Regions from separate parts of the Homo sapiens genome. Here regions 1 and 2 are each linked to region 3. The links come from fine-mapping of genetic effects on gene expression. A gene starts in region 3. Each other region holds a variant in brackets. All regions are shown on one strand. Distances are between the middles of the regions.

Region 1 (2,754 bases), 35 kb after region 3:
CAGGAGAGCTGGACATTGCCTGGACCCACATCAAAAGGCTCCTGCTGTGCTGGAAGGGTCAAAGCATCCTAGGCCCATCCTGGCCTTGTGATCTGAGTCTGGGGCTGCGGTGGCCAGGTTGTCCAGTGGACACTGTAGAGGCAGCCTCGGGGTGAGAAGCCCCTCATGTGGACCCGCAGCAGGGGACATAAGTGGGAAGGAACCCAAAGGCTCAGGGGGAAGCAGGGGTGTCGCTACATCAAGTAAAGCTCCTTCTCGCACCTGCCAGCATGCTGGGAGGATGCTACCTCTAGCATCCTAGGGATGGCAGAAAGGGGCAAGCATGGCTCTGCCTCCTGCCTCTGTGCCTGGTGCAGGCTCCACTGTGGTGTGGGGTCTCTGGCAGTGAGGACTAGGCTACAGCCACCACTCTGGCCTGTGAATCCTAAAGGAGCCAGGGCATGACAGTCCCCACTGCCAACCTAGAGTCCCTCAAACTCTCTATCTAGCCTGGCACTGCCTCCCTCGTCCTGCCAGACCCAGGGCAACAGCTGTGACTCTCCAGGGCTGTGCTCTGAGGGAGGAGCCCTTCCATTCTAGAGATTGCATGGTTGCCAAGCCTACCAAGGGCCCAGCCTTCACTGCCCGGGGAGCCTTTGTTTTCTCCTTCCTTGTTCTAGAAGGAAGAATGGGGGCTAGGGGCACGATCATGTACTATACACCTCTTCTGAGATAGGATCCCAGCTGGTTTCCTGATACTTCAGCCCATTCACATTCCTTAACTGCCCTATAGATGAGGCTCACAGACATGGGAGTGATGGGGTGTGATTTGGCCACACAACCCAAAGATATGGAGCTGAGACCCATACCCAGGTCCTTCCATCCCAGGGGCCACTCATTCCTACAATGCCTCAGTGCAGGCTTGCTGCTCTGCAGGCTCAGAGAGGATGCTTACCCTTTACTCCTGGTGAGCAGAGAACCTAGCCACGGAAGGAAGCCCAAAGAGGGACAAGCTCCTGGGGCTCCTGGGGGCCCCCCAGCCCTCCCTGACCCTCCTCTGCGGGGGCTGCTTCCAGGGGTCTTCCTTGCTTCCCAGTCCTCTGCATGCTTCCCTGACACCTCCACTTATGGAGCTCAGACCCTGCTTGCTGGAGTCAGGTCAGCCGGGCCTTGACCCCGCCCCTCCCCTGCTTGTGGATTTAGGGGCCTTTTTGCTGGCATCACCCTGTCCCAGCCAGACCGGGAGGACCCCTTCTTCTAAGCTCTCAGCCCTTCCTGCCAACATCTTTTAGCCAAGATTCAG[C/T]GAATCAGCAAAGTCTGACGGTTAACATGGCTCCCATCCCAGCTCTGTCATCACTAGCCATGTGACCTTGAGAATGTCTCGGAACATCTGTCTCCCAGTTTTGTCATCTATAAAATGGGGATGCTAACAGCGATATTCCTAGAGCTGTTGCAAGCGTCAAACATACACATAATTGGAACAGCTCCCCGCTGTGGTTTGTGCTCTGTATATCTTTACTGTTATTGTTATCTTTTTCTTCCTCTGAGCTCCTTCCACAGGATGGGTTATTCTGCAGATCCATGACTGGAAGGAAATTAGAGTGGGCTGGATGGAAACCAGGCCGTGGGCCTGATGAAACTGCCATATGGTGCTTTGCTCAGAGCTGTATACAAGAAGAACAAGTTCATATGCCAGTTGGGTGGTGGTGGAGATTGGGGAGGGAAGTAACAAGGACAGGGCTTTGCATATGCTCTATTTTTTGCCCCCTACCTTCCCCTAAAGCCCGTGGCCTCCAATCCCCATTGTCTCCCTTTCCTTTGGGTCTCTGGGTCTCTGATCGTCTTGTGAAAAACCCCATGGAGAGGCGGGGCAGCTGGAAAGAGGAGGAAGTGAGATGGATAACCATGCTGTCTAGTGGCTGGATAACCATGCTGTCTAGTGGCTGGCGCCCTGCGTGTGCTCAGCTACTGGCAGGTTCTACTGTGGTGTTTAACAGTAACTGTGAGCAGGCTGGGTGCAGTGGCTCACGCCTGTAATCCCAGCACTTTGGGAGGCCGAGGCGGGTGGATCACGAGGTCAGGAAATCGAGACCATCCTGGCTACCACGATGAAACTCTGTCTCTACTAAAAATACAAAAAATTAGCCGGGCGTAGTGGCAGGTGCCTGTAGTCCCAGCTACTCGGGAGGCTGAGGCAGGAGAACGGCGTGAACCCAGGAGGCGGAGCTTGCAGTGAGCCGAGATGGTGCCACTGCACTCCAGCCTGGGTGACAGAGTGAGACTCCGTCTCACAAAAAAAAAAAAACAAAAAAAAACCAGTAACTGTGGGCAAAGCCAATGTGAGTCTCGCAAGCCAACTGTGGTTTGTCTTTATTTCTTTCTCTCTACAAGAGACCCTTAAAAAGAAAGTCATTCTTGATACAAAGCACTGGGAACCCTCACAGTTGGCCCTAAAAACAACCAATAGCTCCTTATCTGGCACATGTATATCTCTTTGTTTTCCCCCGCTGTGTTGCCCCTGAAAATACCATGTCTGTCCTGCTCGCCACTGAGTCCTGATGCACCAAGCATGAACTAACGATTGATCTGCACTTGTAGACAGGGTGATGGAGAAGGGATCTGCAAACTTGGGAGCTTTACCAGAGAGCTAACACCTGTGAAAGGGCCTCATACAGTGTCTAGCACATAGTAGGTACCCCATAAATGCCACTTGACTCTGAGTCTGGGGGGCTGTTTGGTTGTCACCAATTTTGATGTATTTCTGGGCTAACATGT
Region 2 (2,754 bases), 27 kb before region 3:
GAGGGTACCCCCATGGAAGGCCAAAAAGCTGTGTAGGAGGGGACCAGGGGGCTGACCTGGAACTCAGAGAGGAGCAGAGCTGGCGCTGAGGCCTTCCAAAGAGGCAGTCCTCTGTGTGGGCTTCTCCCCAGCCTTCCTGTCCCCAAATACCCCTTTCTGGCTGGCTTGTGATGCCTGAAATTCCCCTACCATGAATGTGTCCTTCAAAATAGTATTTTGGCTCCCCAGGCCCTTTGTTTCAAATTCTGGGAGGTATTTGCCACCAAATACCTTGAAATGAGGCTGCCTTCTTTTTCTGATTGACAGCTGCGATGTGGCCAGAAGCTGTCTGAAGGGGTGATTTTAGGTAGAGGGGAGGGGAGAGTGGTGCCCAAGGTGTGAGGTACTCTGTGGGGAAGGAGGCCCTGCGGGATGTGGTGACCCTGGGCAGGGCAGGCCAGAGGGGCAAGGACTGAGGTGGCTGGGGTGCAGGACTGAGCAGGACTGCTCCCAAGTCCTCAGTCAGTAAGTGGCATCCTGGAAAGATCACACTGTGAACCCGGAGTACCCAGTGGTTCTGAATCCCTGCGTGACCCTGGGCGGGTCACTGCCCTCCGTGAACACTGGACTCGCTCTTAGACTTGGCGAGGATTGCACACACCTGGCCCTCAATGGGGCACATACCTTTTACTTTGCCACAGACTCCCCCAACCATTGCCCAACCCAGAGCCACCCCACACTCTACCCTTGGCTATCTGGCCCCTGAAGGCTTTGAGTTTGTGACCCCTGAAAGCCAAGCTTCAAGAGGGCTCAGTTTTAGTTCCGACTGTGCCCTGGATGGGCTGCGTGACCTTCCACAAGCCCCTGGGCCCCATTCCGCAAACCTTCCACGTGGCCAGCGTGCGGTGCGGGGAGATGGTGGTGGGAAGTGGGAATACGACTGAACAGCTGGAAAGACAGGGGAGGGGAACTGACATGAATTGGATGCCCCAAGCAGCAGAGGTCACCAGCAGCAGGAGAAGGACGGTTCTTGCGTTTGCTCAAAGACCTCAAGGATTGCTGTCTTGTTCCAGGTGGAAAGAGAGGGAGGAGACCTGGGGAAGGAAGCCAGGAGGCGCAGCTAAGGGGCAGCGCGGCCCCTCCACCTGACCCGCCGGCCGCCGAGGGCAAAAATTCCCTCGCAGGTGCCGGGTACTTAATAAACAGACTAGCAGGGGCGGGGGGCGACGGCTCGCCGGAGAAAGGATTTAATTAGCAACGCTTTCGGGAGAGAAAATTAAATTACAGGAAGCAGTGGTGCCGGCTGCGGACCACAAAGACCACAGAATCCCGAAGCCGATTCCTCAGACCCCTGCGCGTGTCGGGACCACCTTTCCATCGCCCCAGCCGTGGGATGAAGGCCGCGCAGCGTGGGGC[G/C]TCTGTCTGGGCTCCGGCTGCGACGCCGTCGCGCGTGGCCTCCCCGGCACCCGCCAGAGCCCGCGGCCGTGGCTCGGGCCCGCCGGGAGGGGGCGCCGTCGGGCCTCCGCGCTCCACTCTCCCGGCGCGCGCGCCCCGCGCTTGGCTGCCAGTGTTGGCTGCGCGGGGACCGCGGGCCGCAGCCAACCTGGGTCTGCCTCGCCTAGCCCGAAAGGGCGAGATCATGGGCCCAGACTCTTGATGCCAGCAGTGGTCTTACTCGAAACTCATCTAAGCGTAAGGTGAGGAGAATCGGCCTGATGAGTGGGCGGCAGGTAGTGCAGGACACTGCAGTCTTGTCCACGGCCCGGGCCCCGCGCATCACCGCGTCTCCGAGAGCGCGCTCCGAGCCCAGCCCCTCCTGGGAGGTTCTTAGCCCTCATGTGCCACCGCGGTCCAGGGACCCACCTCCTCTCTGTCTCCTGGCGGGTTTTCTATTTGTCACAATAGCGACCATTCCTGAGCTCCCGCTAGAACCAGGCCTGGTGAGTGAGTACTTAGCTTAGGGAAGGCACCAAGCCCTGTGCGGTGTGATTTTTAGCCCTGTTCGGCGGAAGAGGAAAAGGAAACGAGCTCAGAGAGGCTGAGAAAGTCGCCCAGGAACACACAGCTGGGAAGACATTGAAATCCACATCCCATTGGCTTCTGAGCTCTTCCCCAGCAGGGGAGCGCCCGTTTTTCATTCTCAGTCTCTAGCACAGAGCCTCGCACGTGGGTGCTCAGGAAGGATTTGTTGAAGGAACGGCAGATTTTTCCTTGTTTGTCAAAGGGGGTGCTCATAGCTGAGGGGTGTGAGGATTAAATGAGATGGTGTGTGTAAAACACCTGGCTGTGCACTTGGAGCACCGTGAGCAATTAGTAAAAGCTGGTGCCAGTGTTAATGAAACTCGACAGTGCGGGGAAACACTGGGGACTTTGGTAAAATGTAGATTCTGAATCAGCAGGGCCTGTGACTCTGCATTTCTCATAGGCTCCCAGGTGTTGGCGATACTGCAGATGACAGTTACTTCGCTGTGTGGAACTGGTCCCCACGCCTCCTCACCCCAGCCCCAAGTCCAATCCCCCACAAGGGACCCACTGCAATTATTCCCAGCTTTGTCTGCCTATCTGCAATCCCCTGAGGAGCTTTAGAGAATATCCATGGGGGTGGGGGAAGGCAGGTCTTTTCCCCAGAGTCTGACAGGTCTGGGATGTGACCTGTGCATGTTCAAAGCTCCCTAGAGGTTTCTGCTACACAGTCAAGGCTAGAACCGCTATAGGGGAGGTGTCCGAGGAAGGCAGTAAGTGAGCAGAGGTTTGAGGAAGTTCACCTGATGCAGG
Region 3 (2,754 bases):
GTTGAAACGTCAGGGACAAATCCACCATCCAAATTAAGGGTTGATCTAATCCACAAACAATCTTTGTGAAGATTTGTCCTTATGATTAAAAAGGAGATCCAGGGTTACAAGAAAAGGATCTGAAATGCTGCTTTCAGATCTCTCCTTTTATAGACACTTGGCAACATTCCTGGAAGCTCAAGTTCCCTTTAAAATGTGTCACGTGTATAACATGTGTGCCTGGACAGAAGTGTGAGGTAAAAGCCCAACCAGAGGCTTAAATACAATAAAGTGATAAGGTCACAGAAAGAAAACCTTGAGTAATCCCCGTTAGAATTATAAATACATTACTAGCTTTTCTCCGAAGTCATTTTCTTTTGGCCTGCATATTCAGGGATACCATTCTGGGAGAATGTCTGGGTATCTTAACAGTGGAAAAACCCTGTCTACCTAAATGTCTAATATTCATCTTCCCTTCCACATTCATTCCATTTCTCCAACTTGGCTGAAAATTCGTGTCAAAGATCCTGAACCCCAATTCCATACAATTTCCTATGTTTTAGACCAGTTTGGCTCTATTTTCACCTTTCAAAGGGGAGATGAGCTTAGAGAACTTTCTCCGATCCCCTGCTGCAATTAGTTCACAGTAACAGTGCCCACCTACCCATTCGCACCAGCCCACGTTGCATCTGTGCCAGGCAGCATGTGCACCCTCCAGGCATCCACCAGCCTGCCAGCTCAGCAGGGCAAAACTGGGCAGACCCTAGTACTGTGCTGTGACTGGCATACCACCAGCCTTCCAGGGCAAACGCCCAGGCAATGCATACTGCCAGGACTTGAGCAATAACAGGGAGCCTAGCTCCAGCCTGTGACCTGGGCCGGGATCAGAGCTCCCCCGAACCCACCCACTAACCACTTAACTCCTTACTTGGCACTGCCCACCTTCTCCCCAGAAACACTACCCCCGACACCAAGCCTGGCAAGCTGGCCACTCAGGGGAAACAACCAGCAACGAGGGTGACGGCAGGTCTCTGGAAAAGGCAGCACACCTGTGCCCTGGAGCCAGAACAGGGTACCACCCCCGACCTCAAACCGGAAGCCCAGGACCCTCGCCCAGTTACTAGTTCTGGCGCCCACTCACCTGCCCATTGCTTGGCCCTCAGCTCCCAGCCGGGCTGGACTCCAAGCTCTCTCCCCGCCCAGCCGGCTGGCGGTTGCGCCCAGGGCTAGACCAGGGCCCACCTGCCCCTCACACAAGCCTCCTCCCCACACGCAGCCCCCTCCTCACCCGCGATTCCCTCTCCCACGCCCCTCACAGCAAACCAAAGCCCTGCTCCCACCATTTGGCTCTCCGTCCTCCGAAAGTCCCGGTTTGCCCCTCTTGCCTACTCGCTCCTCTTCCTCTCTCCCCTACTTCCACCTCCTTTCCCCACGCTCCTCGCCCAATCCCTCTCCCGCCGTCATCCCTGCTCCCCTCCTCCCGGACCGAGCCCTCCCTTTCTCACCTAGGGCCGGGGTCGCAGCTCCACGACCGGCCTGTGGGTCAGGTGGCGCATGCGCGAGCACGGCCCCGCGGCACCATGACAACCTCGTCGTCGCTGGGTGTCTCGCTATCCCCACAGCCTCCCGCCCATTTCTCCTCCCCACGCCTCCGCGACGGCTTTCGCCAGCCACGTGACCCGACTCGGATGACCCGGCACCATGGAGACCGCACGCTGTTCTCCTAGAAGGGCCCTTGGAAATGCGCCCTTTCCCCGCCCCCGCCGGAAGACCAGGCCGGCGCGGGGCGGGGCCAGCGCTCAGAGGCCTACGCTCTGTCCGCGGCCGGCGGGCGTCTCTATGGTTGGTTCCTCAGGCCTCGCCGCCATTTTGTACGGGGGCCTTGAGCAATGAGCGGCTTGGGCAAGGTTTCCAGGCGGGGTTCAGAGGAGCCGGGGGTGGGGCCGGCTTGGAGTCGATACAGAGAGAGGAGCGACTCTCGCACTGTCTTGGTGCGTGCCGCCGTGCCGCCGTGCCGCCGTTGGGGGTGGGGGCCGGGGCGAGTCGTGTCCGGCCTGTGCGCGTGCCGGGAGCGACAGTGCCCGGCGTGGGAGAGCGGGCGTGCGGGCGGCCTCAGCCTGGAGTCGCCGTGACAGGGGTGCCAGACCTCCCCGCGTGCTCCTCGCATTTTCTCTACGCCTGTCGCCCTGTTTGTTTTTTGTTCCCGTCCACCCTCGAGACCGTGCTTCACGAGGTCGAGGCGCGATGAGTTATTTTAAGTAGATGATTTCATGACCTTTGATGTTTGACTGACTTTGTCATGTGCTATGGGTTTTATATGGATGCTGTTTCTTGGTGAAGGTTCACGGTGAACACACGTGTGTAACAGCTAAAGAAAAAAAGGGCTTGGGATCAGTTGACGTTCTGATGCCTTGAATCAGTGAAGGTTACTTAGAAAAAGAATTATTTCGCTAGTGAAAAAGAGGACATGGGCGAGTTTAAAGAGTTGACGGGTCGAGGCAGATTCAAGAGCTGAGCTGTCCAGTAAGATGGTCACTAACGACTGGATAAGTTTCTCAGTTGTACTAGCCACATTTCAGGAGCTCAGTGACCTCTTTATTGGACAGTGCAGATTATATATAGCCCATTCCCAGCATCGCAGAAAGTTATATTGGACAGTGCTGATTTAGATAGTGGGGAATTGTTTTATACTGGTCATCCAGGCCTTTGTAAGTGCTGCTAGGTCGTGGTTAATCACGTTAGTCCTCTAGACACAGGTAATTCTAATGTATTACT

Alleles and levels. Alleles are on the strand shown, and positions count from the first base shown. SD is a standard deviation of normalised expression in the study named. Not every link is listed here.
As copies of C replace G in region 2, the expression in Th17 cells of the gene that starts at base 1,588 in region 3 goes up (large effect, 1.3 SD a copy in Schmiedel 2018).

The links. PIP is the estimated chance that this variant, and not a neighbour inherited with it, causes the effect.
Region 1: its variant is the best candidate, but not a certain one, in a credible set for the expression of CIPC in esophagus mucosa (GTEx, PIP 0.82).
Region 2: its variant is the best candidate, but not a certain one, in a credible set for the expression of CIPC in Th17 cells (Schmiedel 2018, PIP 0.87).

Annotation. Positions count from the first base shown.
Region 1 is chr14:77,062,496-77,065,249 of GRCh38, reverse strand. The region is part of intron 2 of LINC02288 (long intergenic non-protein coding RNA 2288); the gene reads right to left. Among named protein-coding and RNA genes, the nearest start is that of LINC02289, 12 kb to the left of the region's middle. The variant C/T (reference allele first, on the strand shown) is at 1,283.
Region 2 is chr14:77,123,845-77,126,598 of GRCh38, reverse strand. No RefSeq gene overlaps it. Among named protein-coding and RNA genes, the nearest start is that of ZDHHC22, 17 kb to the left of the region's middle. RefSeq lists a silencer at 1,360-1,589. The variant G/C (reference allele first, on the strand shown) is at 1,396.
Region 3 is chr14:77,097,092-77,099,845 of GRCh38, reverse strand. CIPC (CLOCK interacting pacemaker) reads right to left here and starts at 1,588. Exons shown (of 4, transcript NM_033426.3): 1 at 1,485-1,588. LOC124903350 (a long non-coding RNA gene) reads left to right here and starts at 1,828. Exons shown (of 2, transcript XR_007064275.1): 1 at 1,828-1,970. RefSeq lists enhancers at 818-977, 1,117-1,946, 2,308-2,357 and a silencer at 1,978-2,127.